Regions from separate parts of the Homo sapiens genome. Here regions 2, 3 and 4 are each linked to region 1. The links come from fine-mapping of genetic effects on gene expression. A gene starts in region 1. Each other region holds a variant in brackets. All regions are shown on one strand. Distances are from middle to middle.

Region 1 (8,102 bases):
AGCGAAGAAAAAAAAAAGAAAAATCTCATGTACCCCATAAATATATACACCTACTAGGTACTTACAAAAATTAAAAAAGAAAAATAAATAAGATTAAGATCACCCATGAGTTGGTAATTGTTGAAGCTGGATAGTGGATGCAAGGAATTCACTGTATGTACTATTCCCATTACTTCTGTATGCGTTTGAAATATTGTTTAAAAAGGGACATTTAAAAAAAGAGAGAGAGAGCAATTCCTCTTTCTACTAGCTGAAACAGAGTTGTTTCACAGTCACTTCATTAACTAGTACAGCCATTACAAGCTTTCTTACTCAGAGCCAAAGCTCCCAGATCAGGGTGCCCTGGATTTAGGGACAGTCCCCTTTACAACTGAATGCCTTCAGTGGGACCATGCCAAGCCTTGTAGAAAGTGGACTAGACCCACTTATAGTCCCAATGCCCTACAAACCACAAAGATGAGGCAAGTAATGATACACCTGACAATGAACTAGAGAATGAATTAGGTCAGCTGCAAACATTTACAGGGAAGCATGAGGCCAGAGTCTTAAAAGAAATGAGGCCAAGCCTTTATTATTTTTGTACAACTGTGAGTTCAAACCAAAATTAAAACTATAAATAATTGAATGTCAGAGATGTCTTGCTTCTTCAGACTACAGACACTCACTGCTAGCACACAAACAAATGTAAAAAAAGGATCGTGACAATTCTGGAGATTCGGAAAGAACTCCTGAAGTTATCTGCAAAGCGGAGCTACCTATCTTCCTTCTCACCCAGGAAGCTGAACAAAGCCTAAGGAGGCTTCCTTAATCATGACTCCCTCAGACAAGACTGGTAGTTTCTGCTCTGTTTCATAAACCTGAAACTATACCTGCACATGCGCCTGATGAAAATGTCAAACAAAATTGAAATCTGTAAAACAACTTTAAAGATTCTACTTGCATTTTGAAAATCCCCAATGCAAACAGTGCGCTTACCTTCTTCTGCCAACTCCTTAGTGATGATGAGTTTCCCGTGGCGGAGGTAGTTGAGGATAGGACCAAAGTAGGTGGGGTCCCTGTCAATCAGATAGGCTCCTGTCTCATCCTGCCAACCAAACACAAGGGTATCATTGTGGACCTTTGAGGAGTATTTTAAACAAAGGCAGGGCAGGATTTCACCATCTTTGTCAGCGCCCCAAGACAACAATTCATTCCATCAGCTAAAAAAGACTTTAGTGATGGCAAATTTTGTTACACATTTGTCACAAACTATTGGTAAGAAAGCTATAGCTTTATGTATCTTGTACATTAAGATCATCTTAGGTAGGGTGTTACAGACAGTCATACTCATTTAGGCGTTTACTTACTGGCTGGAATTTGCAATCTTTGCCTGGACAATAATTACAGTGACAAACATTCTTCTGTAGCGTGTTTGTTATTAAGAAAGGGAGAAAATGCCGTAGCTGTGTAACTGAAATCTTTGCTTGAGATGGACATTCTGACTTTTCCACTGCCTCTGAACTGCATTCCTAATTCCAAGAAAACCTCTGTGTAGTTGGCAATGCTCCTGAGCTCAAGGCCAACATCAGTGGGAGTTTGCACTGCCAGCTGTAATCTCACACACCCCAGCTCTGTGCCCAGAGGAAGCTCGGTACTGCCAGGACTTGGCTCTGAGCAGCTTTAATCCTACTCATCTTTACAGTAAAAGGAACAAGAAGAAACTGGCTTCTATTACCACAAGGAGGATATAGAGTAGATAAAAATAATTCCTTTATAAGCAAGGGTTTTGAAATCTCTTTAAAGTTAGGGCAGGATAGGTTTCCATCAATCTGAGATTTCTTAGAGAAGAGGAATAAACGAAAACAACAAATGTTTACGCAACTCCAGCTCTGTTTTGAGGTCACCAGCTGAGTGCTATATGGGATATAAGATGGTGTGAGTTATGGTCAGTGCCTTTAAGTTGAGAACTTAAAGGTGAATACGTAAAGTTAAAAAGAAATTGACACAGTTCAAACTGGAAATGGTTTAAGTGTCTTGTCACCTCTCAACCCTTTGGTTAGCAGCCATGCATCCTGCCCAAAATTTTCCCGGGAAAATTTTCATTTTCCTTCTGTCTTAGCCTAGATTTGCAGCGGCAAACAGTAACCTCTTTCCAAAAAACGCATTTGATCTAAATATGGACCTAAACCAGTGACTGTTAACAGATAAAAGTTCTGCGACCAGGACTATAGAAAAGCAGTGTGATATCACAAGGAGCGCTTCCTGCAGCTGTGGAAGCCCAACTTGGCAGAGGGGTCCGAGAGGGAGTCTGAGAAAGCTACAAGGATGCCTGAGCTAACCCTGACCCAGTTCTGGATGCATCTGGCACCGGCAGTGGGGGGACTGAAGAGGAGCCAGGGAAAACTCATGCAGATCTCAGTGGGATGTCAGGGGCAGAGAATATGGAGAAGGGGTGTGGAGTGCGTTCTCGTGGGTGCAGGTGGGCGCAGTGTGGGAAGGAGTCTCAGAGAACGAAGGGCGGGGTCGGGGAGAAAGCCAGAGTATGCCTCAGCATGGAAGAAGGGGAGTGGGAGGTCCCTCTGAGGCCCCTGCGAGTAGTGTGGGAGGGAGGGGGAGGATGGGGTCCCGGCCTGAGGGGGCTGCCTGTGAGGAGCGTGTCTCAGGACTCTGGGGACCGATCTACGAGAAACCAGGGGGTTCGAAGGCCCGGGGGCGCGCCCGAGGGCGGGGCACACCTTGTCTGAGTCCAGCTCCGGGTCCTCCTGGCAGCAGAGGCGGCAGAGAAATGACTTGGGCTCCCGGCCTAAGGTCTGTCTGGTGGTCACGAAGTAGGTGCCTCCCACGTTCAGCCTGACCCAGCGGGCCGCGCCGCCGCCCCCTGCCCGCTCGGGTGGTCCGGGACCCGGCTCCAGCGGCTGCGCGACGGCGGCAGCCGGGCGGCCGTGCCCGCGGGGCGTGGGGCCAGCCGGGCGTGGGCTGGGGGGCCCGCGGACTGGGCCACCCCCGTCGCCCACCCCACTCCCGCCGCCCCCTCCCAGCCCCGCCATCGCCGGGTCCAGCTGCAGTTCCGCCATCTTGGACCGCCGCCGCCACCGCTGCTGCCCGCGCGCAGCCGGGCCGGCCCATTTCTCGGCAGGGAGAGCCGGGCCGGCCCATCGGCGGGGGTGGGGCAGAGGGGAGAGGGACGGGAGCGCCCCCAACCAGCGCCCGGGGACCCGCGCGGGGGAGGCGCTGTGCCCGCCCCCGGGAAGATACTTCCGGAACCAGCCCTCATCTCTATTGGCTGATCTGCGAAGCAAGGCCCACCCCCTTGGCTTTGGGGTTGGCTGAGGAAAGATCTTCCCGTGACCCACTTCCGTTACTTGCTGCGGAGGACCGTGGGCAGCCAGGGTCGGTGAAGGTGAGTGGGGCTTGGGGCATTGGATCCGATCCCTGGAGGGCTCCTCTGCTCTGCCCTCTCCAAACCTCACGCCGACCCTTGTCACGCCCCCGTCAAGGACGCTGGGCCCTCGGCTTGCCCCGCTGGCAGAGTGTCCCTTGTGTAGCTGCCGCTCCTCGCCCCGCGATCCCTTCCTCAGCCCTCCTTGGCGCGCGGGGTCAGGGGGGCCCGGCTGTGTCCCAGGCGCCGCTGATGTAGGCGCTGCCACAAGCCGTGTCTCGTGCAGTCCGCTCCCAGCGCGGCAGACTTCAATAGTTTGGTGGGGGGACTGGGGAAACATTACGCAGACAGTGTTAACCTGCCGAGGGACGCTCAGCTGGCTGCGGGGCTGCGCCCTTCCCCTTCGGCAGCTTCCAGGATTCGAACGTATAGAGCGTTCAGGGCTCCTCGGGTGCAGAGTTCGGTTACTCATTCAAGAAAGATTCATTGAGCACCTCCTATGCGCATGATCTGTTCTAGGCGCTGGGGATTAAGCAATAGATTTTTAAGAATTAAAAAAAATTTCGCCGGGCGCGGTGGCTCACGCCTGTAATCCCAGAATTTTAGGAGGCCAAGGCGGGCGAATCGCGAGGTCAGGAGTTCGAGACCAGCCTGGCCAACGTAGTGAAACCCCGCCTCTACTAAAAATACAAAAAATTAGCTGGGCGTGGTGGAAGGCCCCTATAATCCCAGCTGCTCGGGAGGCTGAGGCAGGAGAATCGCTTGAACCCGGGAGGCGGAGGTTGCAGTGAGCCGAGACCACGCCACTACACTCCAGCCCAGGCGACAGTGCGAGACTCCGTCTCACTCACACACACACACAAAGTTATTTGTGACTTCCATTTTCCACTGATGTTGCGGGAAATCAGGGACCCCAAACAGAGAGACCGGCTGAAACCATGGCAGAAGAACGTGGATTGTGAAGATTTTATGGACATTTATTAGTTCCCCAAATTAATACTTTTGTAATTTCTTATGCCTGTCTTTACTGCAATCTCTAAACATAAATTGTAGAGATTTCATGGACACTTATCACTTCCCCAGTCAATACTCTTCTGATTTCCTATGCCTGTCTTGTCTTTAATCTCTTAATCCTGTCAGTTGAGGATGTATATCGTTCCAGGACCCTGTAATAATTGTGTTAACTACAAAAATTGTACAGCATGTGTGTTTGAGCAATATGAAATGTGGGCACCCTGAAAAAAGAACAGGATAACAGCAATTGTTCAGGGAACAAGAGAGAACCTTAAACTCTGACCGCCGGTGAGCCGGGCAGAACAGAGCCATATTTCTCTTCCTTCAAAAGCAAATGGGAGAAATATCGCTGAATTCTTTTTCTCAGCATGGGATATCCCTGAGAAAGAGAATGCGCACCTAGGGGTAGGTCTCTGAACTGGCCCCCCTGGGGCGTACCTGTCTCTTATGGTTGAGACTGCAGGGGTGAAATAAACTCCAGTCTCCCATAGCGATCCCAGGCTTATTAGGAAAAGGAAATTCCCACCTAATAAATTTTGGTCAGACCGGTTGATCTGAAAACCCTGTCTCCTGATAAGATGTTATCAATGACAATGGTGCCCAAAACTTCATTAGCAATTTTAATTTCGCTCTGGTCCTGTGGTCTTGTGATCTCACCCTGCCTCCACTTGCCTTGTGATATTCTATTACCCTGTTAAGTACTTGATGTCTGTCACCCACACCTATTCGTATACTCCCTCCCCTTTTGAAACTCCCTAATAAAAACTTGCTGGTTTTTGTGGCTTGTGGGGCATCACGGATCCTACCAACGTGTGATGTCTCCCCCGGACGCCCAGCTTTAAAATTTCTCTCTTTTGTACTCTGTCAAGCCAGTCGACGCTTAGGAAAATAGAAAAGAACCTATGTGACTATCGGGGCAAGTTCCCCGATACACTGATGTTTGGGAAAGTCTGTAAGGGTGCTTGGTTCCCTGGTAACTTTAAAATCACATGCCAATTGCCTTAACACCTCCCCTCCACAACAGGAAACAGGCTGTCCTGAGAAAGAAAGGAAGGACAGGACAGGTGTTTGACAACTTTCTTGAAGATCCTGAGAAAGACTGCTTCCGCCTCCCTTGCATTCCACTCCAAGCTTATAGAGATTTTTGACTTTGCAGTCTTTTAATATCTGACCCTGATCTTACTTAAAGAGGACTATTTTCCTATATTCTGACTTTTTTTTTAAGTGGCTGTAGTCGTTTTCTGTATTTTTCTCACATTTTCACATGTGTTGAATACCTCTTAAAATGCAGGCCGGGCGCGGTGGCTCATGCCTGTAATTCCAGCACTTTGCAAGGCTGAGGTGGGTGGATCACCTGAGGTCTGGAGTTTCAGCCCATCCTGGCCAACGTGGAGAAACCCTGTCTCTACTAAAAATACAAAAATTAGGGCCGGGCGCGGTGGCTCACGCCTATAATCCCAGCACTTTGGGAGGCCGAGGCGGGTGGATCATGAGGTCAGGAGATCGAGACCATCCTGGCTAACAAGGTGAAACCCCGTCTCTACTAAAAATACAAAAAATTAGCCGGGCGCGGTGGCGGGCGCCTGTAGTCCCAGCTACTCGGGAGGCTGAGGCAGGAGAATGGCGTGAACCCGGGAAGCGGAGTTTGCAGTGAGCCGAGATTGCGCCACTGCAGTCCGCAGTCCGGCCTGGGCGACAGAGCGAGACTCCGTCTCAAAAAAAAAAAAAAAAATACAAAAATTAGCTGGGTGTGGTGGTGGGTGCCTGTAATCCCAGCTACTCCGGAGGCTGAGGCAGGAGAATCGCTTGAGCCTGGGAGGTGGAGGTTGCAGTGAGCCAAGATGATGCCACTGCACTCCAGCCCGGGGGACAGAGTGAAACTCCATCTCAAAAAAAAAAAAAAAAAAAGTGCACAACGTGTGCTGGTGCTGCTAGGGTATAATCCGATGTGAATAAGAAGGTGCAGGTGTATTACCAATCTAGTTGGAAGGGGATAGCCCTTTTAAGTTTGTAAAACTCTGGAGCAAGTTGCTGTGCACAATTTCATGTGACACTTTTAGCAGCCCTCTGGGGCAAGCAGGACTGATAATGCCCATTGTACACATAAGTAAATTTTAGCCTAGAGAGTGCTCTATTTAAGGCTTGTTGAAACTTAGGTGTGTGTCAGTTTCTGTCTACTGGAGAATCAGTGAATAAAACACAATCTGGGTGGAAATGTCTTTATTAACTTTTATGCAATAAGAGTGTTATTTTTAGTAATTTTTCCAGAGGCACATGGAGGGGATAAAGAGAGCTGGGGTTTGTTTTTTTTTTTTTTTTTGAGACAGAGTCTCACTCTGTGTCCAGGCTGGAGTGCAATGGCGCTATCTCAGCTCACTGCAACCTCCGCCGCCCAGGTTCAAGTGATTGTCCTGTCTAAGCCTCTTGAGTACCTGGGACTACAGGTGCATGCCATCACGCCCGGCTAATTTTTGTATTTTTTAGTAGAGGCAGGGTTTCACCCTATTGCTCAGGCTGGTCTTGAACTCCTGACCTCAAGTGATCCACCCACCTCAGCCTCCCAAAGTGCTGGGATTACAGAAATGAGCCACTGCGCCCGGCCAAGAGAGCTGGGCTTTTAAGGCTAAATAGGAGTTGGGAGAGAATGTATTTGTATGCCACATTGCACACTTTGAATTTGAAAAGCTACACTGTCCTTTCCTTTTCTTTTTGAGACGGACTCTTGCTGTGTTGCCCAGGCTAGGGTGCACTGATGCCATCTCAGCTCATTACAACCTCTGCCTCCTGGGTTCAAGTGATTCTTATGCCTCAGCCTCTGGAGTAGCTGGGATTATGGCGCGGGCCACCACGGCTGGCTAATTATTGTATTTTTAATAGAGATGGGGTTTTGCCATGTTGGCCATGCTGGTCTCGAACTCCTGACCTCAGGTGATCCAACCGTCTTGGCCTCCCAAAGTGCTGGGATTACAGGCGTGAGCCCACTGCGCCTGGCCGCACACCTTGAATTACCTTGAATTTGAAAAGCTACACTGTCTTTTTTTCTTTTTTTTTGAGTTGGAGTCTTGCTGTGTCTCCCAGGCTGGAGTGCAGTGATGCAGTCTCGACTCACTGCAACCTCCACCTCCTGGGTTCAAGTGATTCTTGTGAAGACTTGCATGTTTCTAAGATTTAAAGGATTCTCTCTAAGAGCTCTTATTTTGTTATTTATCATTTTTCCCAACTGAAAATTCACCTCATAAAAAAGCCTTGTTTTTATTTGACTTATTTTTCAGGATCCCAAAATGGCTGGGCGAAAACTTGCTCTAAAAACCATTGACTGGGTAGCTTTTGCAGAGATCATACCCCAGAACCAAAAGGCCATTGCTAGTTCCCTGAAATCCTGGAATGAGACCCTCACCTCCAGGTCAGTATGTTTCTGAGAGGGAACCCCATACTTGCCACTGAATCTAGAAACAAAACAGTATTAAGGAATTACATATGAATTCTTGATGCCCTTATGACAACATATAAAGAAATCCTTGCATTTTCATGATGATCTTAGGAGAGGAAAGTGTGGTGACCCTCCAGGCCATAGGAAGAAGGGATAGGAAAATTACCATGTGAATTTTCTACTGCTTATGAACAATCCTAACTTTTGCCTTTCCTTGTGGGCAGGTTGGCTGCTTTACCTGAGAATCCACCAGCTATCGACTGGGCTTACTACAAGGCCAATGTGGCCAAGGCTGGCTTG
Region 2 (8,102 bases), 40 kb after region 1:
TAGTAGAGACGGGGTTTCACCATGCTGGCCCGGCTGGTCTCGAACTCCTGATCTCGTGATCCGCCTGGCTCACTCGGCCTCCCAAAGTGCTGGGATTACAGGCATGAGCCACCATGCCCCACCAGATGGCCTCTTAAAACTCATCATTGACCAGGTGTGGTGGCTCTCACCTGTAATCTCAGCACTCTGGGAGGCCAGGGTGGGTGGATCACCTGAGGTCAGGGGTTCAAGATCAGCCTGGCTAACATGGCAAAACCTCATCTCTACTAAAAAAATGCAAAAATTAGCTGGGCATGGTGGCATGCACCTGTAATCCCAGCTACTCGGGAGATTGAGGCTGGAGAATCGCTTGAACCCAGGAGGTGGAGGTTGCAGTGAGCTGAGATTGTGCCACTGCACTCCAGCCTGGGTGACAGAGCAGGACTCCGTCAAAAAACAAAACAAAACAAAACAAAACAAAACTCATCATTATGTGTAGATAGGGAATGTGCAATGAGGCATGGTGGATTGGTCAGGACTAAGTTTAAATATTTATTTTTTTATTAAAAAAATAGAAAAATGTGTCCATGTCCTAACTGCTGGTAACTGTGACTATGACTTCATTTTAAAATTGTATTATTATTATTTTTTGAGACAAGGTCTCGCTCTGTCACTCAGGCTGGAGTGCTGGTATGATCACGGCTCACTGCAACCTCGGCCTCCCCGGCTCAAGCTATCCTCCCACCTCAGCCTCCCAAGTAGCTGGGATTACTGGCATGTGCTGGATAATTTGTGTATTTTTGTAGAGACAAGGTTTCTTGTCTCTACCAGCCCAGGCTGGTCTTGAACTCCTGGGCTCAAGCAATCCACTTACCTTGGCCTCCCAAAGTGCTGGGATAATAAGCATGAGCCACTATGCCCAGCCGAGTTTGAATATTTCTATGTGACCTTGAATTACTAACCTGACCTCTAAGTTTTTGTATCCTCATCAGTAAAATGGAGATTTTATAGTCATCTCATAAAGTTCCTGAGGATAGTAAACACATATAAAACACTTAACACAGTGCTTGGCATGAAGTCAGCAGGCAACAAAAATTAGCTGCTGCTAAGGGATGCTATGTGCATGCAGGTTCCTTAAGGGACACTTTTCTTTCAGACACCTGATTACTGTTGTCTTTTTTCCTCTGTAGCCCTGGAGTGGGAAATCCAGTCTGACGAGCTGTATTCCAACCCTCTTTCCTTCTTCCCTGAGGGGATGGGCAGCACAGAGCTGCCCACCTCTCCCTGGAAAGTACTTCCTTCATTGCTACCCCTTATCTGCCTGGTCCCCTAAAACTGAGGCCACCCCCCAGCTCTCAGCTCAGGATCCCCAGGGAGGGCAGAGGCAGGTCTGTTTGGCTAGCTGCCCTCCCTAAGTGGGGTGGTGGGTTTGGCCCTGGGAGAGGAGAAGGGTGCCAGTTCAGGGGAGGAGAGAATGGGGCAGGGGCCGGGGGGCGGGGAGGAGCTCCCTGCAGCAGGGAGTATCTGTCCACAGAGCAAGGACAAAGTGGTGATCAGGAGGGAAGAAGGGAAAGAAAGGAGGGAAGAAGGGAAAGAAATGCATCCAGAGGGCGGTTTAGAAAGCTGAGGGAGGCCAGGCATGGTGGCTTACTCCTGTAATCCCGGCACTTTGGGAGGCCAATGTGGGAGGATCATTTGAGCCCAGGAGTTCAAGACCAGCCTGGACAATATAGCAAGACCTGGTCCCTACAAAAAATTAAAAAAAAAAAAATTAGCCAGCATAGTCCCAGCTACTGGAGAGGCTGAAGAGAGAGGATCACTTTAGCCCAGGAGCTGGAGGCCGAGTAAGCTACAGTTGTGCCACTGCACTCCAACCTGGGCAACAGAGCAAGACCCTGTCTAAAAAAAAAAAAAAAAAGGCTGAGGGAGAAAAGGGTGGCTGGATTCACGCCACGGCTTCCTTCGTCTCTCAGGTGTGACTGCTCCATGTGGTCACCACCACCTGCTCCCCATCCTGGTGACGACAGGTGACAACAGGATGGGAAAACCCAACAGCCACTTGCACGCTGCCCTTGTAAAAGCCCCATGCTGTTCAGTTGATGTACTAAGCACAGCAGTTTGGGGCCCAGCCTTGGGCTTGCCACACCACACTTTTTTTTTTTTTTTTTTGAGACTGAGTCTCACTCTGTCGCCAGGCTGGAGTGCAGTGGTGTGGTCTAGGCTCACTGTAACCTCAGCCTCCTGAGTTCAAGCAACTCTTGTACCTCAGCCTCCGGAGTAGCTGGGATTACAGGTACACACCATCATGCCTGGCTAATTTTTGTGTTTTTAGTAGAGATGGGGTTTTGCCATGTTGGCCAGGCTGGTCTCCAACTCCTGGGCTCAAGTGATCCTCCTGCCTCCGCCTCCCAAATTGCTGGGATTACAGGCATGAGCCACCATGCCCAGCCCCACACCACACTTTCCTCCCCTCCTGAGTTCAAGGGAAGTTGTTCCCCATCAGGACATTTGGGGAAGGAGTTTTGGGGAGAAGCCTGCATTTCCCCCCAGTTCCAGCTGGCCCCTGAGTCTACCTCCCTTAGAAGACTTTGGAAGCTTTTCCACAGACTCAGGTTGTGTGGGCTGGTGGAACTGGAGTCCACAGAGCTGCCTTTTTTTGTCTGGAGACGAGAGAGTGAAGCTAGCAAGAAACCCCTCAAAGATTCAGGAGCATTTTCCTCTCTGGTTTTGGAAGTCCCCCATCGGAAAGGTCCACCCAGGCTGCTGGTGCGAGAAGGGGTGGGTAGCGTTGGCAGTGTGAGGCGAAGGAAGATACCCTAGAGGTGCCCCCTTTGATCAGGATCCACAGTCCTGTTTCTAGGCTTCCAGTATCTGAGCTTGGACAGCAATTCTTTTTTGAGACGGAGTCTCACTCTGTCGCCCAGGCTGGAGTGCAGTGGCGCGATCTAAGCTCACTGCAAGCTCCGCCTCCCAGGTTCACACCATTCTCCTGCCTCAGCCTCCCGAGTAGCTGGGACTAAAGGCGGCCACCGCCATGCCTGGCTAATTTTTTCTTGGACAGCAATTCTTAAGTTCAGGATGGACATTACTAAATCTGGAGAGGGCTGAGTGGAGCATGGGAAGTTTGAAAAACCGCTATCATTTTGCTTTTTTTTTTTTTTTGACGGAGTCTTGCTCTGTCACCCAGGTTGGAGGGCAGTGGTGCGATCTCGGCTCACTGCAACCTCTTCTT[C/T]CCGGTTCAAGTGATCCTCCCACCTCAACCTCCTAAGTAGCTAGGATTTTTGTATTTTTAGTAGAGACAGGGTTTTACCATGTTGGCCAGGCTGGTCTCGAACTCTTGATGTCACATGATCTGCCTGCCTCAGCCCCCCAAAGTGCTGGGATTACAGGCATGAGCCACCTCGCCCGGCCTATCATTTTGCATTGAGGAAAACAGAAAACCCAACGGATTGACGGCACTTCCAGAACAAGAGGGAGGCTGGTGTAATCTTGGTGATGGGGACCCCTCCAGAAGATGAACCCCTCTATGTACCGTCCTCTGTATAACATGGGGAGGAGACAGATATCTGAGGAAGAATGGGAGTGGTGAGGTTTTTCATGTATATGGAAGAGAGATATGGGGTTTATCAGCTTGAAAAACACCAGGAGATGGCCCTCTTGTCATTCCTGTGACTGTCCTGTGTCATCAATGGGTGGCTCACCAAGGGCAGGTCAACTTCCCCATCCCTCATGGTCCTTCAGGGCATCAGTCTGGCCCTGGACTTCCTGCCGTGGCGTCTCATTGCACTTAGGAGGCCCGAGCTCCCCTGAACCTTCCGGGCTCTTAGGAGCCTGGCCTCCACCCTCTGTTCTGGCCACCCCCCACTGCCCCAGCTGCTCCCTGGGCCTCCACTTATCTTCCCGTTGGTTCCTCCTCAGCCTTCTGGTTTCAGCTTCATCATCACCTCTCCAGAGGTGCCCTGACCACCCTCGCTTAGCATTTCTCAATCTTTTTTTTCCATGATCGCTCCCCCTTCCTACCTCAAAGAGCCTATTTAGACATTTTCTCCGAATTGCTCCCCCAGGAATTTTAGTAACACTGTATATCTCTTCATGTGCTGTATTTATATATCTAGATATGATTTTTTGAGACAGGGTCTCGCTCTGTTGCCCAGGCTGGAGTGCAGTGGTATGATCATAGTTCACTTCAGCTTTGACCTCCCAGGCTCGTGATCCTCCCACCTCAGCCTCCTGAGTAGCTGGGACTACAAATGCACACCACCATGCTCTGCTAATTTTCAAAAAATGTTTTGTAGAAAGGGGGTCTTGCTATGTTGCCCAGGCTGGTCTCAAACTTCTGGGCTCTAGCAATCCACTTTGGCCTTCCAAAGGGCTGGGATTACAGGCATGAGCCACCGCGCCAGGCCGATTTTTTTTTTTTTTTTAACTTGGTTCACCCTGTTGGGCCCACGTGCTCTAGCTGAGGTAGCACTACCCTCTTGCCCCGATTTTTCCATCATGCCGTATCTTTTGTTTGTTTATTTTGGGTGGATCTCCCCACACCAGAATATAAACTCCAAGGGAAGAGGGGCCCTGCTGGCTTGTTCACCATGTATCCCTAGCTGGCCCTCAATAAATATAGAAACTTCTGCCAGAGCCTGCTATTTGGAGCTGTTCAGTCTCAGGGAAGTGGGACACAGGATGTTACCCTCTCCCATGGCTGGGCGTGACGCGAGGCAGGTGTGTGAGATGCACAGAGATGGGCCATTTTTGCTTTTAGAATACTGGTGCATTTTTTATTAAAGAAGAGAATAAAGCATTTGTAAATATATTTCTCTCACGTATACTTCAAAGGTGACGCTGGTCTGCCACTACAGAGCTGGGGAGCAGACAGGCTGGAGCTCTTCCCCCAACCCTTCCACACTCCTCTCCCCCAGATAACAGACACACACGGAGGGCAGGGAGCTGCCTAGCCTCAAAGGACAAAAGTTTCCCAGTTGCACGTACAGAAGGACTCAGTCGCCACCAGCTCCCATCACAGTGCCGCCCGGAAAGCAGGTGGTGTCTCCAGGAGGTCAGGGATGCTTGGTAAGAAAACCCCTTTACCCATTAGAAATAAATAAGGCATGAAGGTTCCCACTGGGATCCCGGTGCAGAGGCCAGGGCCCCCCCGCCTTCCACTGACTGTATGGCTCTTCTGGTTTCTAAGGTCTCAGGAAGGGCGGCAGAAGGAACCAGAAGCCCTGAAGGGCTGCTCAGGGCAAGCTGGGGACCTGGGTGTCTCTTAGCTGAACTTGACTTTCTGACATCTTGAAGCAAAACTCCTGACGCAGCTGGGTCCTCAAAAGCCCCCCACAAAGGTGGGAGGTGAAGAGCAGGCATTTTATGGGAGGGAGGGAGGGAGCATGTTCCTCAGCCCCATCCCAATACAACACGATGCAGCATGGGGCGAAAACCCCAGTCCCCAGTGAAGGGGAGGCAGGGGTGGACATTGGGACCACCGGCTGGTGGTGCATGTCCAGAACATTCTGGGGGCTGCAGACATGACCTGTGCCAGGGTTGGCCTGTGGGGAGCGTGGAGTGACTGAGACATCATGGTCCCTGAGATGGGGGCAAGCACAGAGACGGGAGTCAGAGGCCAAGCTTGGTTAGTTGGTGGCGGTGTGAAGGGATGGGGGCTCCCCACTGCCCCGGCCCCTGGAAAGCTTAAGGCCCAGCAGGCATTTCTGGGGTTGGAAGCCAAGGAGACAAGCTCTGAGCGAAACTGCACCACTCTGCTGAGGGGCTCCTTCTCCTCCTCCTCTGACTGGCTACAGATCTGCGGTGGGCCAAGAGTATCCAGGGAGAAACCTGTCCCTGGCAGGGCTGGAGCAGGGACACTCCAGGCCCAGCTGAGGCTTCCTGCTCTGCATGGCAGGGGACATCTCTGACCTGGTCAGGACCCTGGAGGTGGGACAGCTGGTGCTAAGGGAATGTCAGCGCATCAGGGTTGGGGAGAAGCAGTGGGTGGTCCAGGAAACCCCTGAAACAGCTGGCCCTGGGGTCCCCTTTCAAGTGTTTCCAGTTGTGGCAAGGGGTCAAGGAGACCTTGCATTGCAAATCTCTTAGAAAAAACAAACTTAACCAAAAAAAAAAAAAAAGCCAACTGATCCAGAATGGCTTTCAGAAGCCTGGTCACCAGTCTGAGGGTGAGGCGCAGGGTCAGGAAGCCAGGGGCTGGGGGAGCTGGGGGATCCCTGGGGTAGTGGGGACATTTGGCTTTGAACTCAGAGCTGCGCCTTTGGGCTGGCGCGAGGTGGCCAAGGGCTCCTGGGAGGCAGGACAGGTGGGCTGCCTCCGCTCAGCAGGGAACATGCTGCGTGCTTCCGGATCAGGAGGCCGCGTGCTGTGGTGGCAGGCCGCTAAAGGGCGCTCGCTCTCTGGAAGCTGCACCGCCCAGGCCTGAGGGACCCCACGGCTTCCACCCTGGGGGAGGCTGCAGGCCGGAGAAGGGTCACTTGCTGCTGTGCGTCTTGACTTTGGTGGCGTTGATGTCAGCCTTGGTCTTCTGGATCCTGGAGAAGATCTCTTTGAAGAGCGCCTTGTACTCGGGCTGGCTCTGTTCCAGCCGCTTGTCCACGGCCTCCACGTGCTGGCTCAGGCTCTTCTCTCCTGCCTTGACCTCACCCTGGCCCTCCTCACCCCCGCGCAGGTCCCTCCACGAGCTGTCCCGGGAGATGGGGCGCGAGGTCTGCACGCCGGCGTGCCGCACTCCGGCCCCGTGCTGCCGGCACTTGCTCAGCAGCTCCTCGTACTTCTCCAGCAGCGCGTGGTACTGCTCGTCCACCTCCCGCAGGATGGACATGCCCCGCTTGCGCACGCTGTTGGCGTGCAGTGTGAGGTTGCCCGCGTGCCGGCTGGCTGGGTCTTTGGCCACGATGGCGTTGAGCGCAGTGTCGCTGCAGCTCTTGCGCACCACGTGGCCTGGAGAGGCTGCCGGTGAGGAGACCCCGTCCTGGGCGCCCAAGTCGTCCCCGCGGCCGGGCTGGGGATCGTCGGCCTCAGGGGCCTGCGTGAGGGGTGCGAGCAGGGCCTCGGCCAGGTGGTCGTCCGGACCCAGTAGGTAGGTCTTGGCCTGCTTCATCTGCTGCAGCTCCAGCAGCTCGGCCTCCAGCTCCTGCACACGCAGGCGACAGGCCTCCATCTCGCACAGCTGGCGCTCCAGCTCCGAGTACTCCTGCAGCACCGCGGTGTACTCGCGCTCCGCCCGCTCCTTGCGCTGCCGCTCCTGGCTCACCTGGGAGCGCAGCGCCCCCACCAGGGTCTGCAGCCGCTCGTTCTCCTGCTCCAGGGGCCGCGGGCCCAGCTCCAGGGAGGAACTGTGTAGGCGGAAAGCATCCTTGCACCTGGCGGGTAGTGAGAGTCGCAGCGGGGTGGGGGCGGAGGAGAGGGCAGTGGTCACGGGCACGGCCAAGGCCGAGCAGCCCAGCCAGGGCGCTTACATCTCTCTTGTTCTCTGGGCTGAAATTGTTTGCCCCTCTCCGTTGGCTCTCCACCCTCCTCCACCCTTCTCCCCCTGCTCTCTGCCCCCGGAGGCTGACCACTACGGACCGCCTCTGTCAGGTTGCCTGGTTCTCTCCTGAGCTTGGCCCATGAGAGGCACTGGCTAGAGGTCCGAGGGGGGAGCAGAGGCCGTGGGGTGTGTCTTCTTTGGGCTCTCCATGGTTAATGGTGACCAGGCAGCCTTCTCCATACCTTCCAGGTGCCGGTAACCTCCCTTCCCCCTTGCGCTTTGAGGCCTAGGGCTGGTGGCAGCTCCTCTCTGCTGCAACCCTGGGGCACTATAGTGTCCCTGTGGTTTCCCTACCCCCTGCCCACACCTCTTCTTCATTTAACTTCTCCATTACTCTGTGTAAGAGACTGTTTCCTGCCAGGACCCTTATTGAAACACCCACTACATATGACACATGTATTTTTCCATTATTAAGTGGTTGTCTAGTGTTAGATTTAATGGGAACTGAAAAGCACAGTGGGTTACCCCTCCTGGGTTAGCATGCTGGCTGAGCCTCTTACTAAACAGGTGACCTTGGATAAGACACACAACCTCTGGGCTTCAGTTTTATCATCTGGAGAGTAGGCATAATAAAACACCCCCAACAGTGTTG
Region 3 (8,102 bases), 130 kb after region 1:
AAGGTTGCCTAGCAACCATCCAGGGGTTCCAAGCCACCTCCCTCCACTTTACAGATGGAAAAACTGAGGCCCACAGAGGGGAAGAGTCAGACCCAGAACGCGGGTCTCTGGCTGCTGCCATGCTCTCCTCACACTCAGGCTGCCAAGGGCGCTAACACAACAGGATTCCACCAGCCATGCCCTGGGGGCGCACCTCCCTGCGGCTTCTTTGGCCATCCTGGTCACTGCACCCACCTCAGGAAAGACTCACTGGTCCTTGCCGCGATGGTCCAGAAGAGGACACGGGTGAGGAATGACAAGACAGAGAGCCGAGGGGCACTTTGGCATCCCAGCAGAGATGAACCAGAGGCAGCAGGATGAGGGGCTCCATGGGTCAGTGTGGCTCCAGGGCAGAAGCCTGGGGTGCCAGGAGCAGGAGCTGCTCCAGGGAGCCTGTGGGGATGTTCAACACAAGCAAAGAGGAGAAAATATTACATGGTAGGGGCTCAACTTTCATGACTCATTTCCCTAAAGATTTAGATCAAGAATAGGGACATTTACGAGGTCAGGAGATCGAAACCATCCTGGCTAACATGGTGAAACTCTGTCTCTACTAAAAATACAAAAAATTAGCCTGACGTGGTGGTGGGCGCCTGTAGTCCCAGCTACTTGGGAGGCTGAGGCAGGAGAATGGTGTGAACCCGGGAGGCAGAGCTTGCAGTGAGCCGAGATTGCGCCACTGCACTCCAGCCTGGGCGACAGAGCGAGACTCCGTCTCAAAAAAAAAAAAAAAAAAAAAAAGGGACGTTTTAGCACTTTGGGAGGTAGAGGTGAGTGGATTGTTTGAACCCAGAAGTTCCAGACCAGCCTGGGCAACGTGGCAAGACCCTATCTCTACAAAACATTTAAAAATTAACCTGGTTGGTGGTGTGCACTTGTGGTCCCAGTGTATGCGAAATTGGTGGGTTCTTGGTCTCACTGACTTAAAGAACGAAGCTGCAGACCCTCACGGTAAGTGTTACAATTCTTAAAGGCAGCATGTCCGGAGTTTGTTCCTTCTGATGTTCGGATGTGTTTGGAGTTTCTTCCTTCTGGTGGGTTCGTGGTCTCGCTGGCTTCAGGAGTGAAGCTGCAGACCTTCGCGGTGAGTGTTACAGCTCTTAAGGTGGTGCATCTGGAGTTGTTTTTTCCTCCCGTCCAGAGTCGTTCATTCCTCCCGGTGGGTTCATGGTCTCGCTGGCCTCAGGAGTGAAGCTGCAGACCTTCGCAGTGAGTGTTACAGCTCATAAAGGCGGTGCAGACCCAAAGAGTGAGAAGCAGCAAGATTTATTGCAAATAGTGAAAGAACAAAGCTTCCACAGTGTGGAAGGGGACCCCAGCGGGTTACCAGTGCTGCTTGGACAGCCTGCTTTTATTCCTTTATCTGGCCCCACCCACATCCTGCTGATTGGTCCATTTCACAGAGAGCTGATTGGGCTGTTTTACAGAGGGCTGATTGGTCTGTTTTGACAGGGTGCTGATTGGTGTGTTTACAATCCCTGAGCTAGACACAGAAGTTCTCCAACTCCCCACTAGATTAGCTAGACGAAAAGCACTGATTGGTGTATTTACAAACCTTGAGCTAGACACAGAGTGCTGGTTGGTGTATTTACAATCCCTTAGCTAGACATAAAGCTTCTCCAAGTCCCCTCCAGATTAGCCAGATACAGAGTGCTGATTGGTGCATTCACAAACCTTGAGTTAGACACAGAGTGCTGATTGGTGCATTTACAAACCTTGAGCTAGACACAGAGTGCTGATTGGTGTATCTACAATCCCTTAGCTAGACGTAAAGTTTCTCCAAGTCCGCACACATTTATTCTTTTTCCCCTTTCCCAGTTCTAAGGCTCAGGTAAGTGCCACTAGTTCTGCTAACTGGGCCCTGGTCCCTGGGGGAAGAGGCTTACTTTCAAGTATGGTTACCTCACTATGGCGTAACCTGCCCTTCATATCCCATTCTCCACAAATGAACTTCCATTGGTATATAGGTTAAGGTCAGGATTAGCTAAGGGGACTTCTAAGGGATCATCTCGGGTGGCATAAGTCTGGACCATAAAAGTCATGCTCGATTGGTTCCCCATCCTCTGGGAGAAAAGTGGCAGGGTTGAGGGCCACGCATGTGCATATTTGAAGCACCAGTCCCTCAAGGAGTAGCTCCTGGTATCTAAGTAGGCAGTTGTCTGATAGCCATAAACTTCCTTTGGCACATAGTATGCCATTTACATCATGAGTAGTCCATACAGTGAGATCTTTTCCTTGTATTATTTTGATGGCCTCTGACACTAAGATGGCCACTGCTGCAACTACCGTTAAACAGTGAGGCCAGCCTTTTGCTACTACATCAATTTCCTTACTTAGGTATGCCACTGGTTGTGGGGTTGTCCCACGAGTCTGAGTAAGGACTCCAAGAGCTATCCCTGCTCTGTGACGTATAAAGAGAAATTTTGTCCTGTTGGAAGGCTTAAAGCTGGAGCTTGTGCTAGGGCCTGCTTTAAGGTTTTGAAGGATGTTTCTGCCTCTGGTTCCCATTCTACTAGATGAGTATTTGCCTTCTGGGTTTCCTTGATTAGAGTATAGAGGGACCTGGCTATCTTGCTGTATCTGGGGATCCATAGTCAGCAAAAGCCGGTAATTCCAAGGAACTCCCTTAATTGTTTTAATGTCTTAGGGTGAAGATAAGCCAGTATAGGCTGTATTGGTTCCTTGCTGAGGGCCCTGGTGCCTCTGGCTAAGATTAGGCCTAGATATTTGACCTGCTGTAGGCAAGGCTGGGCCTTCGACCTAGACACCTTGTACCCTTGATTAGCTAGAAAGTTCAAGAGATCTAGAGTAGCCTGCTGGCATGAGGCTTCCGAACTGGTAGCCAAAAGTAAATCATCCACATATTGAAGGACCAGAGTGCCTGGACTTGAGAGATGGCCTAGATCTTGGGCCAGTGCCTGACCAAGCAGATGAGGGCTATCCCTAAACCCATGGGGCAATACCGTCCATGTAAGTTGGGATGTGTGGTCTGTGGGATCCTCAAAGGCAAAGAGAAACTGGGAGTCAGAGTGCAGGGGAATACAGAAGAAGGCATCCTTGAGGTCCAGAACCATGAACCATTCTGCTTCCTCTGGTATTTGAGAGAGCAGGGTATAGGGGTTGGGTACAACTGGATATAGAGGAATTACTGCCTCATTGATGGGTCTAAGATCTTGCACTAGTCTCCACTGACCTTTCAGTTTTTGTACTCCTAGAATTGGGGTGTTGCAGGGACTGCTGCATTTCCTTACTAAGCCTTGAGCCTTTAAACGTTTAACAATATTCTGTAATCCTTTATGGGCTTCAGGCCTTAAGGGATATTGTCTTTGATAAGGAAAAGTGGTGGGATCTTTTAACCTGATTTGGACTGGGCAGGCATTTTTTTGCCCTTCCAAGTTGTCCTTCCAGTGCCCAGACTTCAGGGTTGATTCCCTCCTCAAGTAGGGGACAACAAATGGGTAACTTGTTCCCCATATTCATGTAGATAATAGCTCCAGCCTTGGACAATATATCCCTCCCTAATAAGGGTGTGGGACTTTCAGGCATAACAAGAAAGGCATGTGAAAAGAGCAAAGTCTCCCAATTACGACTGAGGAGGTGGGAGAACTACCTGGTTACAGGCTGTCCCAGGATTCCTCAGATGGTAATGGACCTTGAGGACAGTCATCCAGGACAGGAGATTAACGATTAACACTGAGAAGGCCACGCCAGTGTCCAGGAGGAAGTCAATTTCCTGGCCCTCAATGGTTAAAC[G/A]TACCCGGGGCTCAGTGAGGGTGATGACATGAGCTGGTGCTTGCCCCGGGCACCCTCAGTCCTGCTGTTAGATCATCTGGTTGGGGGCTTCTGACCCAGATAACCTTCATCCTCTGGGGCAGTGCACCTTCCAGTGATTGCCTCGGCATAGTGGACATGGACGAGGGGGCAGCTTGTTTCTCATTGGACAATCTTTTTTAAAGTGTCCTAGTAAACCACACTGATAAAAAGCCCTACCGGGTTATTGGCCTGCTCCATTTTCTGTCCTCTCTGAGCCACCAAGGTTTGTTTGTCTGAGGGCCATGACTAAGGCTGCGGCCTTTCTCTGATCTTGCTTTTCCTTTCGGGCCTGTTCCTCTTGGTCCCTATTATAGAACACTGAGGTTGCCAGGTTTAATACTGCCTCCAAATTTTGTTCAGGGCCCAGGGCTTGCTTTTGGAGCTTTCTCCTGATATCTGCAGCTGATTGGGTAATAAACTTATCTTTTTGAATCAGTTGACCCTCGAGTGATTAGAGTGACAGGGGAGAATATTTTCTTAAGGCCTCCCGTAGCTGCTTGAGGAAGGCAGAAGGATTTTATTCCTTTCCCTGAGTTACGGTGGACATCATTGAATAATTCATGGGCTTTTTTCCTAATTCTTCTTAGTCCTTCTAGAGCACAGGTCAACAGATGTTTATGACTCCAGTCCCCATGATCTGAGTCAAGGTCCCAGTGGGGATCCATACTGGGGATGGCTTGCTGACCAGTAGGGAATTTGTCCCTTTCTTCGGCTGTCATTCTATCATTTACTTGACTAAGATACCAAGTATCTCCAAACTCTTGGGCTGCAGCTAAAGCCACATTCTTTTCATTAAAGGCCAGGGTTTGATCTAACAGCAGCATGACATCTCTCCAAGCGAGGTCGAAGGTTTGCCCTAGACATTGTAGGACATATATGTACCTATCAGGATCATCTGAAACTTCCCCAGGTCTGCCTTGATCTGCTTTAAGTCAGAGAGGGAGAAAGGGACATGTACCCAGGTTGGGCCAAATTCCCCTCCCCCTACAGCTTGAAGGGGACATAACTGATAGCCCAGGGGTTTTTGTGGTCCTTTGGAGATTTCTTTGCTTATTTCCTTCTGGGCAGGGGAGATTAGCGGAGGATTATCATTCATAGGAAGGGGAGCTATAGGGAGGCTAGGATATGGGGGTAAGCTGAGAGGTCCTCCTGTGGGATGTAAATTGCAAGCTTTGCATAGTTGTGTATTCTCCCTCAATGAAAAGAAAGCTTGGACATAAGGTATTCCACTCCATTTGCCTTCCCTCTTACAGAAAAGGTCAAGCTGCAGGATAGTATCGTAATTCGTACTTCCCTTAGGTGGCCATTTTTCCCCATCAGGGAGAGGCTATTGGGGCCAAGCCGTAGTGCAGAAAAAAATAAGCCGCCTCTTTTTCAGGGTTTGTGGGTCAAATTGGTCCCAATGGCTTAGGATGCATTTCAAGGGTGAGCCTGTTGATGCCTGAGTGTTTCCCATCTGAAAGACAAAACCGCCCGTGGTTTTGGTTTTTGTTTCTCCCCCTGCCCAAGAACCTGCAACGGTCCCTGAACCCTGCTGATCAGAATAGTTGTGCTCACTGACGCGGCAGCAGAAACACTAGCTTTCCTCCCAGACCACATGGAGGACCGAGGAAGGTTGGATTTAGTGGCCCTTACCTATGCATTCTCGAAAACCTGCACCCTTCCCTGTCCTCCTAGACCACAAGGAGGACTGAGAAAAATAGGATTTAGTGGCCCTTACTGACGCATTCTCAAAAACATGTTAGAGTCCCAAGCATTCTCCTGTTAGTATTGGGACCTTACCCATGTCCTATAAAGATGTTATGCCCCAAAAATGAAGTGGAGGGCCATACCCTGAGGGAGGGAAGGGATCTCCAGGGTTGGAAGAGTGACACCTTTTGCCCTCACTTATATGAACAGGAAGGATACAATTTCTGAGGCTCCCCATATCCTAGCTTCAGGAATAGATTTTGTTAGGCCTGTTTGTCTGAGAAGGGATCCTAAATTTCCAGGTAGTCCCACTATGATGGGGCTTTGGGCAAAAATTATGTCTTTCTGATTGGTGAGCCTGGGTGCCTAAAGAAGGTAACAGAGTTTATACTAGAAGTCATTCTTATAGGAGAAACTAGAAAAGCACCAGAGACAGGTAGTGATTTTTAGAAGCAGGACTAACCTTGGAGAAGATAGGTGAGAGGAAGTTTGTCTGGCAAGCATTAGGACCCAGGGGACAAGGGTCAGGATAGATAGGATAGATGGGCGAGTCTTGCTTGGGCAACATGCCTTTGAGAGTTCTGCTCATGGCCACAGGGTCAACCAACTTGTTGTTGGGACCCCAGAGCTGCATGGCTTTCCTCTCTGTCAACGCTTGGCTCAGCCCAGAAGTACAGGAAAAGTGGAAGCTGGTTCTAGGCAAACCAACGCTCCCAACTCCGAAGAGTAGGGGATTGTTAGAGAGCCCTTTCCCAGAAAGCCTGACATCCGTGTCTTTAGTCCGGTGGCCATGCTAGTGGATTTTAACTGGCCGACAGGTGCCCGGTATTTAGCTCCCAAATTCTAAGGAAAAATAGGACAGAATAGCAAGTGAAAGGGGTCCGATGGTACTCACTGCTTGGCGATAGGTGATAGTCCCTTCACTCAGTGATACACAATGGTCTCACCGCTTGGTGATAGGTGATAGTCCCTTCAAGGTTGCCAAAATGTGTCAGGAATTGGTGGGTTCTTGGTCTCACTGACTTCAAGAATGAAGCCGTGGACCCTCGCGGTGAGTGTTACAGTTCTTAAAGGCAGCATGTCTGGAGGAGAGAGGAGAACAGCAGCATAAGCAGCTGGCAGAGGCAGCAGAAAGGAAAGAGAGAAAGAGACAGGAAGTCAGAGAAAGAGAGAGGAAGAAACAGAGACAAAAAGAAGGAAAGAGAGGAAGAGACAAAGGGGGAGTCAGAGAGAAAGAGAGAAAGAGAGAGACAAAGAAGAAGTCGAAGAGAGAAAGAGAGAGATAGAAATAGTAAAGAAAAAACAGTGTACCCTATTCCTTTAAAAGCCAGGTAAAGTTCTGCCTACCCAGCCAAGGCATATTCTTCTTATGTGGAACATCGACCTATATCTGCCTCCCCACTAACTGGACCGGCACTGGCACCTTAGTCTTTCTAAGTCCCAACATTAACATTGCCCCAGGAAATCAGACTTTTATCAGTACCCCTCAAAGCTCAAGTCCGTCAGTGCAGAGCCATACAACTAATACCCCTAATTATAGGGTTAGGAATGGCTACTGCTACAGGAACTGGAATAGCTGGTTTATCTACTTCATTATCCTACTACCACACACTCTCAAAGGATTTCTCAGACAGTTTGCAAGAAATAACGAAATCTATTCTTACTCTACAATTCCAAATAGACTCTTTGGCAGCAGTGACTCTCCAAAACCACCGAGGCCTAGACCTCCTCACTGCTGAGAAAGGAGGACTCTGCACCTTCTTAGGGGAAGAGTGTTGGTTTTACACTAACCAGTCAGGGATAGTAAGAGATGCCACCTGGCGTTTACAGGAAAAGGCTTCTGAAATCAGGCAATGCCTTTCAAATTCTTATACCAACCTCTGGAGTTGGGCAACATGGCTTCTCTCCTTGTAGGTCCCATGGCAGCCATCTTGCTGTTACTTGCCTTTGGGCCCTGTATTTTTAACCTTCTTGTCAAATTTGTTTCCTCTAGAATCGAGGCCATCAAGCTACAGATGGTCTTACAAATGGAACCCCAAATGAGTTCAACTAACAACTTCTACTGAGGACCCCTGGACTGACCCGCTGGCACTTTTACTGGCCTAGAGAGCACCCCTCTGGAGGACACTGCAGCTGCAGGGCCCCTTCATCACCCCTATCCAGCAGGAAGTAGCTAGAACGGTCATTGGCCAAATTCCCAACAGCAGTTGGGGTGTCCTGTTTACAGGGGGGATTGAGAGGTGACAGCGTGCTGGCAGCCCTTGCAGCCCTCGCTTGCTCTAGGTGCCTTCTCGGCCTTGGCGCCCACTCTGGCCACACTTGAGGAGCCCTTCAGCCCACCGCTGCACTGTGGGAGCCCCTTTCTGGGCTGGCCGAGGCCGGAGCTGGCTCCCTCAGCTTGCAGGGAGGTCTGGAGGGAGAGGTGCGGGCGGGAACTGGGGCTGCACACGGCGCTTGTGGGCCAGCGCGAGTTCCAGGTGGGCGTGGGCTTGGCGGGCCCCGCACTCGGAGCGGTCACCAGCGCCGCCGGGCCCCCGGCAGTGAGGGGCTTAACACCTGGG
Region 4 (8,102 bases), 420 kb before region 1:
ATTGTTCCATAAAAATAAAAAAAATTTCCACTCTTCAAAATATGCCATAAAAAAATTGACGTTGGGCACAGTGGTTCATGCCTATAATCCTAGCACTTTGGGAGGCTGAGGCAGACAGATCACTAGAGGCCAAGAGTTTGAGTCTAGCCTGAGCAACATACCAAAATCACGTCTCAAAAAGCAAAAGTAGTTTTGAAGTCTTTGGGATTAAAAAAAAATATATATATATATATATATATATAAAAATTCTTATAGCTCAGTAACAAGACCAACAACCCAATTTTAAAATGAGCAAAGATTTCAGCCAGGCATGTTGGCACACACCTGCAGTCTTAGCTACTTGGGAGGCTGAGGCAGGAGGATCACTTGAGCTCAAGAGTTGGAGGTTGCAGTGAGCCATGATCTCGCCACTGCACTCCAGCCTGGGCAACAAAGTGAGAACTTGTCTTAAAATAAATAAATAAATAATAAACAGGCAGAGATTTGAACAGACATTTCACAAGATATATAAACAGTCAATATGAATATGAAAAGATGGTCAACAACATTAATTATTGGGAAACAAAAATTAAAACCACAATGAGAAGGCCAGGCATGGTGGCTCACGCCTGTAATTTCAGCACTTTGGGAGGCTGACGGGGGAGGATGACTTGAGGCCAAGAGTTGGAGACTAGCCTGGGCAACATAGCAAGACCCTGTCTTACAAAAAAATTTAAAACCACAACGAGAGACCAATACACACCCATTAGAACGACTAAAATGAAAAAGACTGAGAATATGGCTGACGCAGGAGGATCTTGAGACCAGGAGTTCAAGGCTGCAGGGAGCTATGATCACGCCACTACACTCCAGCCTGGGAAACGGAGTGAGACCCTGTCTCTAACAACAACAACAAAAAGAGCCGGGTGCAGTGGCTCATGCCTGTAATCCCAGCACTTTGGGAAGCTGAGGTGGGTGGATCACCTGAGGTCGGGAGTTCAAGACCAGCCTGACCAACATGGAGAAACCCCATCTCCACTAAAAATACAAAAATCAGCCGACTGCACCTGTAGTCCCAGCTACTTGGGAGGCTGAGGCAGGAGAATCGCATGAACTCAGGAGGCGGAGGTTGCAGTGAGCTGAGATCATGCCATCGCACTCCATCCTGGGCAACAAGAGTGAAACTCCGTCTCAAGAAAGAAAGAAAAGAGGAAAGAAAGAAAGAAAGAAAGAAAGAAAGAAGGAAGGAAGGAAGGAAGGAAGGAAGGAAGGAAGGAAGGAAGGAAGGAAGGAAGGAAAGAAAGAAAGGAAGGAAAGAAAGAAAGAAAGAAAATGAAAAAATACACAGGGATAAGGGGCCAAAATGGAGAGGCTCTGAGGAGTCACTGAAGAGTCTGGGTTTCTGAGTAGGCCCCAGGTTTGTTTGTTTGTTTGTTTGAGACAAGGCCTCACCCTATTGCCCAGCCTGGAGTACAGTGGTGCGATCACAGCTCACTGTACCTCAACTTCCCAGGCTCAAGTGATCCTCCCACCTCAGCCTCCCGAGTAGCTAGGATCACAGGTATGTGCCACTATGCCTGACAATTTTTTTTTTGGAGACAGGGTCTATGTTGCCCAGGCTGTTCTCAGTATTTTAAGAGGGTAGAAAATGGATCAGAGGGAAAAGGAAAGAAATTATAGGCAGAAGAGTTAGAAGAAAATGATGATAATCTTGGTTTGCCATGCCAAGTATCTAGACAAAGCTGGCAACAGTAGCCATGAAGACAAAGGGGTGGATGCCTCCTGCTGCCAAGCTCAGAAACAAGGTCAAAAAGAACTAAGTGGGAGCCCAAGGCTCAGGTTGAGGGCAAGATGAGGAGTTGGCTGTCCTTCTAATCCCTTCTAGCACAATCTTCATTAGCTGTGCTTGTAAGCCAGCCATGCCCAACACACCAAAAATGCGGTTAGGTGGATCTGTATTCGGTTTAATAGTTGTGCCCACAGGGTACTAATTGATAGATCTGTGTTAAGCTGGAGGGAAGTTTTTAATAGCAAGCTGTAGGATTCTATCCTTGGTGGCATTACAGTCAATATTTTTATCAATGACTTGGGTGAGGAAACAGATGGTATGCTAATCAAATTCTTGGATAGCATAAACCTGGAAAGGAGATCAAAGTCAAAATCCAAGAAGCTCTCAACAGGCTGAAGTGATGGGCCAAATCAAAGGGGTTCAGTTTAACTGGAAAAAATATTAAGTCCTGCACTTAGGTTCAAAAACTACTGTATAAAACTACCACAAATGGCTTAGTTAGATGCAATTTCAATATGAGTGTATGCTCACTCAAAGTTCATTCACATTTAGGCTGCATTAACAGATACCTGTGTCCCTAACAACAGACGAGGAAGTCTGATTTCTGTACATGTCAGAGCATACCTGGAATATCTTGTTCAGTTGCGCATCACACACTTTAAGAAGGACACTAACAAAACTGGAAGGATTTCAGAGAGCAGCAACCAGGTTGGAGAAACTAAGACGTGAGAAATGGCAGAATGAACTGAAGATGCTTAGCCAGTACCCTAAAAACACACTTTGGGTGCAAGCAGGGCTAGAAAGGTATAATGGCTACAAGCAGTGAGAAGGGCCAGGCTTACTCTGGGAGGCCCCAAAACAGGAACTAGGATGCTATAAGAAGTAGACTGAGACTTAAAATGTACAGTATCTTTCTACATAATTTAAACTGTATATATATATATATATATACACACACACACACACACATATATATACGTGTATATATATACATATATACACGTATATATATACATATATATACACACATATATATGTGTGTGTGTGTGTATATATATATATATATATATATATATATATATATATATATATTTTTTTTTTTTTTTTTTTTTTTTTTTTTTACTTTTTTTATTTTTGGAGACATGTCCTCATTCTGTTGCCCAGGCTGGAGTGCAGTGGCATGATCATGGCTAACTGCAACTGCAGTCTCAAACTCCTGGGCTCAAACAATCTTTCCACTTCAGCCACCCGAGTAGCTGGGACCACAGACACATGCCACCATGACCAGCTTTTTTTTTTTTTGTAGACACAAGGTCTTGCTATGTTGCCCAGACTGGTCTAGAACTCTGGGGCTCAAGCAAATCCTCCCACCTCAGCCTCCCAAAGTGCCGGAATTACAGATATGAGCCACTGAGTCAAGCCTAGAACTGTATATTTTTAATTTTTTTTAATAGAGATGGGGTCTCACTTATGTTGACCAGGCTGGTCTCGAACTCCTGGCCTCAAGCGATTTTCCCATCTTGGCCTCCCAAAGTGCTGGGATTACAGGTGTCAGCCACCATGCCCAGCCTTAGAACTGTATATTTTTAAAAATGGAATAGGCTGCCCTGTGAAGCAATGAGCTCCCATCACTAGAGGGAACCAAGCAGAAGCTGAGAAATTATGGAGATAATTAATACATGAGGTGGAGGGTAGGAAGACAATTCTAACCCTGAGAGAATGTGAAACCAAAAATCCAATAGCTTCTCCATATGCAAAGATGCTCAACTCTGCTTATAAAAGACATTCAGGCCAGGCGCAGTGGCTCACGCCTGTAATCCCAGCACTTTGGGAGGTCGAGGCTGACAGATCACGAGGTAAAGAGATCGAGACCGGCAGATCACGAGGTCAAGAGATCGAGACCATCCTGGCCAACATGATGAAACCCTGTCTCTACTAAAAATACAAAAAAATTAGCTGAGAGTGCTGGTGGGCGCCTGTAGTCCCAGCTACTTGGGAGACTGAGGCAGGAGAATCACTTGAACCCAGGAGGCAGAGGTTGCAGTGAGCCGAGATCGTGCCACTGCACTCCAGCCTGGGCAACAGAGCAAGAAGACTCTGCCTCAAAAAAAAAAAAAACAAAACAAAACAAAACAAAAAAAACTGTAAAATTTATATAGGAGATAGGAAAAAATCTTTGTGACTTTGGGTTACATTTCTTTTCTTTTTTTTTTTT[TG/G]AGACGGAGTCTTGCTCTGTCGTCCATGCTGGAGTGCAGTGGCACGATCTCGACTCACTGTAAGCTCCGCCTCCCGGGTTCGCGCCATTCTCCTGCCTCAGCCTCCCGAGTAGCTGGGACTGCAGGCGCCCGCCACCACGCCCAGCTAATTTTTAGTAGAGACGGGGTTTCACCATGTTAGCCAGGATGGTCTCGATCTCCTGACTTCGTGATCCGCCCACCTCGGCCTCCCAAAATGCTGGGATTACAGGCGTGAGCCACTGCGCCCGGCCTACTGTGGATTACATTTCTTAGATTCAGTACCAAAAGCATAATCCACAAAAGGAAAAATTAATAAATTGGAACTGAGTGGCTAGGGAATGGTTGGGAGCAGGAAGAATTTTTACTATATATACTTTTTAAAAAAATTCTTTTTTATACTTTTTTCTGCCCTTGAATACATATACTTTTGTGCCTTTTGATTTTCAAACCATGTGAATGTATCCAATATGTCTTTAAAAGATCAGCAACTTCAGGCTGGACACGGTGGCTCATGCCTGTAATCCCAGCACTTTGGGAGGCCGAAGCAGGCGGATCATCTGGGGTCAGGAGTTCGACATCAGCATGGCCAACATGGCGAAACCCCGGCTCTACTAAAAATACAAAAATTAGCCGGGCACGGTAGTGTGCACCTATATTCCCAGCTACTCCGGAGGCTGAGGCAGGAGAATTGCTTGAACTCGGGAGGCGGAGATTGCAGTAAGTTGAGACCACACCACTGCACTCCAGCCTTGGGCAATAGAGCAAAACTCTGTCTCAAAAAAAAAAAAAAAAAAAAAAAGCCAATCGCAAAAGGACAAATGTTGTATGATTCCTCTTATATGAGGTTTCTAGAATAGTCAAAATCACAGAGACAGAAAGTAGAAAGATGGTTGCCGGGGGTGGGAGCAGGGGGGAAATGGGGAGTTAAATGTTTAATGGTGACAGAGTTTCAGTTTGGGAAACTAAGAAAGTTCTGGAGATGGATAGTGATGAGGGTTGCACAACAATGCAAATGTACTTAATGCCACAGAACTGGTTACAATGGAAAATGTTATACTATGTATTTTTTTCCTTAATTTTAAAAATCGGCAACTTCTGGCCACCTGTAATTCCAGCACTTTGGGAGGCCGAGGCAGGCAGATCCCTTGAGCACAGGAGTTTGAGACCAGCCTGGGCAACAGGGCAAGAACCGTCTCTGTAAAAAATACAAAAATTAGCCAGGTGTGGTGGCATGTGCCTGTGGTCCCAGCTACTCAGGGGGTAAGGTGGAAGGATCACCTGAGCCCAGAAGATCAAGGCTGCCGTAAGCCGTAATCACACCACTGCACTCCAACATGGGCTACAGAGCAAGTTCTGTCTCAAAAAAAAAAAAAAAAATCAGCAGCTCCTGATTCTGATTTTGCAATAGGCTCTGCCTTATAGCTAAGCAACATTCCCTACTTGGCTTTCACGTCAACATAATGAAGGTTTACGCTCTTTCAGTACACCTGAGTCTTTGTCCAGCATACATCTTTTTTAAGTGTTTCCCAGTATTTTTCTATTCACCTCCCTACCAAGCAAGACTGGTACCATGAACCCCTTTTTCAAGAAGCCCTTGAAGTTATGAAAATTGGGTTCATTTAATTATAGTACACTAAAATTTATGGTTCCTCAAATACCACTCTAAGCCTTTCAAGGTTCTTCTCTCTGACACCCCTCACCCCTCTCCCATCACTTCTGGCCTTGGGAGCTAGAGAAACCCAAAGCAAGCAGTGTGTGGTTTGCTCCTCCTTACGCAGGCCATCAGTGTCTAAATCTGGCCCTTAACCTACTTGTCATGCCATGTGACCCATACTGTTTACTACCGTCTCAGTGGCCACAGGCAAAGCTTATTATTACACAAACCCCTGATCACCAAACCACACATTCTGGCTGGCGGGTCTGCTCGGAAGAAAAGCATTCCTGTTTCAGCCATGGCCTACCCTCTAGTTCACCTGTGCTGCTATAAACAAACCCAGGCCTGCTTGGAAACGGGCTTTAAACAATATTTTTAAATCCTATCATTTGGGTAAAGAAAGACACCATCGTAAAAACAACACTAACACAATAGTAAGATAAGAAATATTGACACATATTTACCAACCAGTGCCACGCCTGACCCAGAACCTTCTCACTTGAACACCAGGAATGGACTTAAAGGCTTTATGGCGTTCAGGCTTAGACTGCTAAGGTACGAGTTCAACCTGATTCATCAGATTAAGCTAAATACATACAGCCTTGGGTGTAGGTGGTATTTACATTAGGACTCCTCCCTCTCCTATAGAAACTGTTTCTCAAGCCCAACTTAGGGAGAGAGCAGCAGGCAGGAACAGGACGATCACAACCTTCATTTCTCATTAGTTTCTACAGGAGTTAAGGTTTCCAAAAGGCTGGTTCTCAGCACTAGGAGCTGGCACACCTAGCAACTTCTCAAAATAGAAATGCCATGGGGTTTCTCTTCCATTTCACTGTCAAGGCCTGGCTCTCCCAGTCTCATCTGATGTCAAGTCACCACAAACAAGGGGCATGGTGGTCTGGTGGTTCAAGGGCAGTTAACTCTCAATTATTTGGGGGCTGATGATGAAGAAGATGGTTTGTACTTCACCTCCCTGGTCATTGCACTACTCCACAGTATCCACCAGTTTCCCTGTTTGCAGTTTTGACAAAGAGAACCAGTGAGCAAGGAAGTTAGAGCTAACATAGCAGCTAAGACTTGCAATGTTTGAGGATTTTATCTGAACATGCTGTCTCCTGTTCTAGGGTTAACCACCATAGTCTACATTTTATTTGTTTTTGTTTTTTTTGTTTTTTTTTTTTTGAGACGGAGTCTCGCTGTGTCGCCCAGGCTGGAGTGCAGTGGCGCGATCTCGGCTCACTGCAAGCTCTGCCTCCCGGGTTCACGCCATTCTCCTGCCTCAGCCTCCCAAGTAGCTGGGACTACAGGCACCCGCCACAATACCCAGCTAATTTTTTGCATTTTTAGTAGAGATGGGGTTTCACCGTGTTAGCCAGGATGGTCTTGATCTCCTGACCTCGTGATCCGCCTGCCTCTGCCTCCCAAAGTGCTGGGATTACAGGCGTGAGCCACTGCGCCCGGCCAATAGTCTACATTTTAATGTGCTCTGATCTTTACAGTGATTTTCAAACTTTTTGATTCCATGACTCTTTTTTTTTTTTTTGGAGACAGAGTCTTGCTCTGTTGCCCAGGCTAGAGTGAGTGCAGTGGCATGATCACAGCTCACTGCAGCGTCGACCTTCTGGGCTCAAGCGATCCTCTGGCATCCACCTCCCAAGTAGCTGGGAACACAGGCACATGCCACCATGCCCAGCTAATTTTTTTGGTTTTCTTGTCAGTGTGTTGCCCAGGTTGATCTCAAACTCCTGGGCTCAAGCAGTCCTCCCACAGCAGCCTCCCAAAGTGCTGGGATTACAGGCATTACTTTGACTCTTTTGAACCTTACTAGTGCCATTGCTTTAAATTTTTTTATTTATTTGTATTCTTTTAGTTATGCCTCAGGATCTAACTTTTTTTTTAAACTACCTCTTCAGAATACCAAGATCAGCTCTTCTTTTGCCAAAAGTACTATAAAGAGATACCACAGTGCCATTTCTTCTCTCTTCAATGGCTCTCAATCTTTTTCTGCCTCCACGCTGTTCCTGTATGCAACGCGTTCCTGTTAATAACATCTCTAATGACACTGTAATGGTTCCCAAAAACCAAGGAAGAGGCATACCTTCCTCTTACTCTGCCTCTCGCTGCCCTGAGAATCACTAAAATAATTTACGCCCCCAATACAGACAGAGACTACAATGAATATTAATACAAGAAGTCTGCCAGAGAACTACCTGCTGGCTTCTTAAAATTACTGAATGCAAACCAGGTATGAAGACCCTAGTCATTGCCAGGAAGCATAGGAGGATCCTACTTTTAATGCCCATCGCTTTTAATGCCCAGAGCCACCCTGCAAGAGCTCAGGGGAGTCAGGGAACTTGATCTCCTCAGGTCACACCTAGGAAACAACTAGGTCTAGCGGATAAAGAACTCAAGCCCCTGGACTTTCGGATTCTAGTTTGGCTCT

Evidence for each region.
Region 2: its variant is fine-mapped to the expression of KCTD2 in whole blood (INTERVAL, PIP above 0.99). The same link has a PIP of 0.9 or more in lung.
Region 3: its variant is fine-mapped to the expression of KCTD2 in whole blood (INTERVAL, PIP above 0.99).
Region 4: its variant is fine-mapped to the expression of KCTD2 in whole blood (INTERVAL, PIP above 0.99).

Annotation. Positions count from the first base shown.
Region 1 is chr17:75,042,202-75,050,303 of GRCh38, reverse strand. It overlaps KCTD2 (potassium channel tetramerization domain containing 2), which reads right to left and starts at 3,079. Exons shown (of 6, transcript NM_015353.3): 1 at 2,715-3,079; 2 at 976-1,084. The coding sequence starts at 3,053. It overlaps ATP5PD (ATP synthase peripheral stalk subunit d), which reads left to right and starts at 3,335. Exons shown (of 6, transcript NM_006356.3): 1 at 3,335-3,379; 2 at 7,645-7,775; 3 at 8,027-8,102. The coding sequence starts at 7,654. RefSeq lists enhancers at 3,096-3,390, 3,275-3,860, 3,799-3,868 and a silencer at 2,969-3,398.
Region 2 is chr17:75,002,424-75,010,525 of GRCh38, reverse strand. CDR2L (cerebellar degeneration related protein 2 like) reads right to left here. Exons shown (of 5, transcript NM_014603.3): 5 at 4,726-7,343. The coding sequence ends at 6,452. Among named protein-coding and RNA genes, the nearest start is that of MRPL58, 6.2 kb to the left of the region's middle. The variant C/T (reference allele first, on the strand shown) is at 3,212.
Region 3 is chr17:74,907,280-74,915,381 of GRCh38, reverse strand. No RefSeq gene overlaps it. Among named protein-coding and RNA genes, the nearest start is that of USH1G, 12 kb to the left of the region's middle. The variant G/A (reference allele first, on the strand shown) is at 3,793.
Region 4 is chr17:75,457,796-75,465,897 of GRCh38, reverse strand. The region is part of intron 1 of TMEM94 (transmembrane protein 94); the gene reads right to left. Among named protein-coding and RNA genes, the nearest start is that of TMEM94, 5.2 kb to the right of the region's middle. RefSeq lists a silencer at 5,964-6,013. The variant TG/G (reference allele first, on the strand shown) is at 3,984.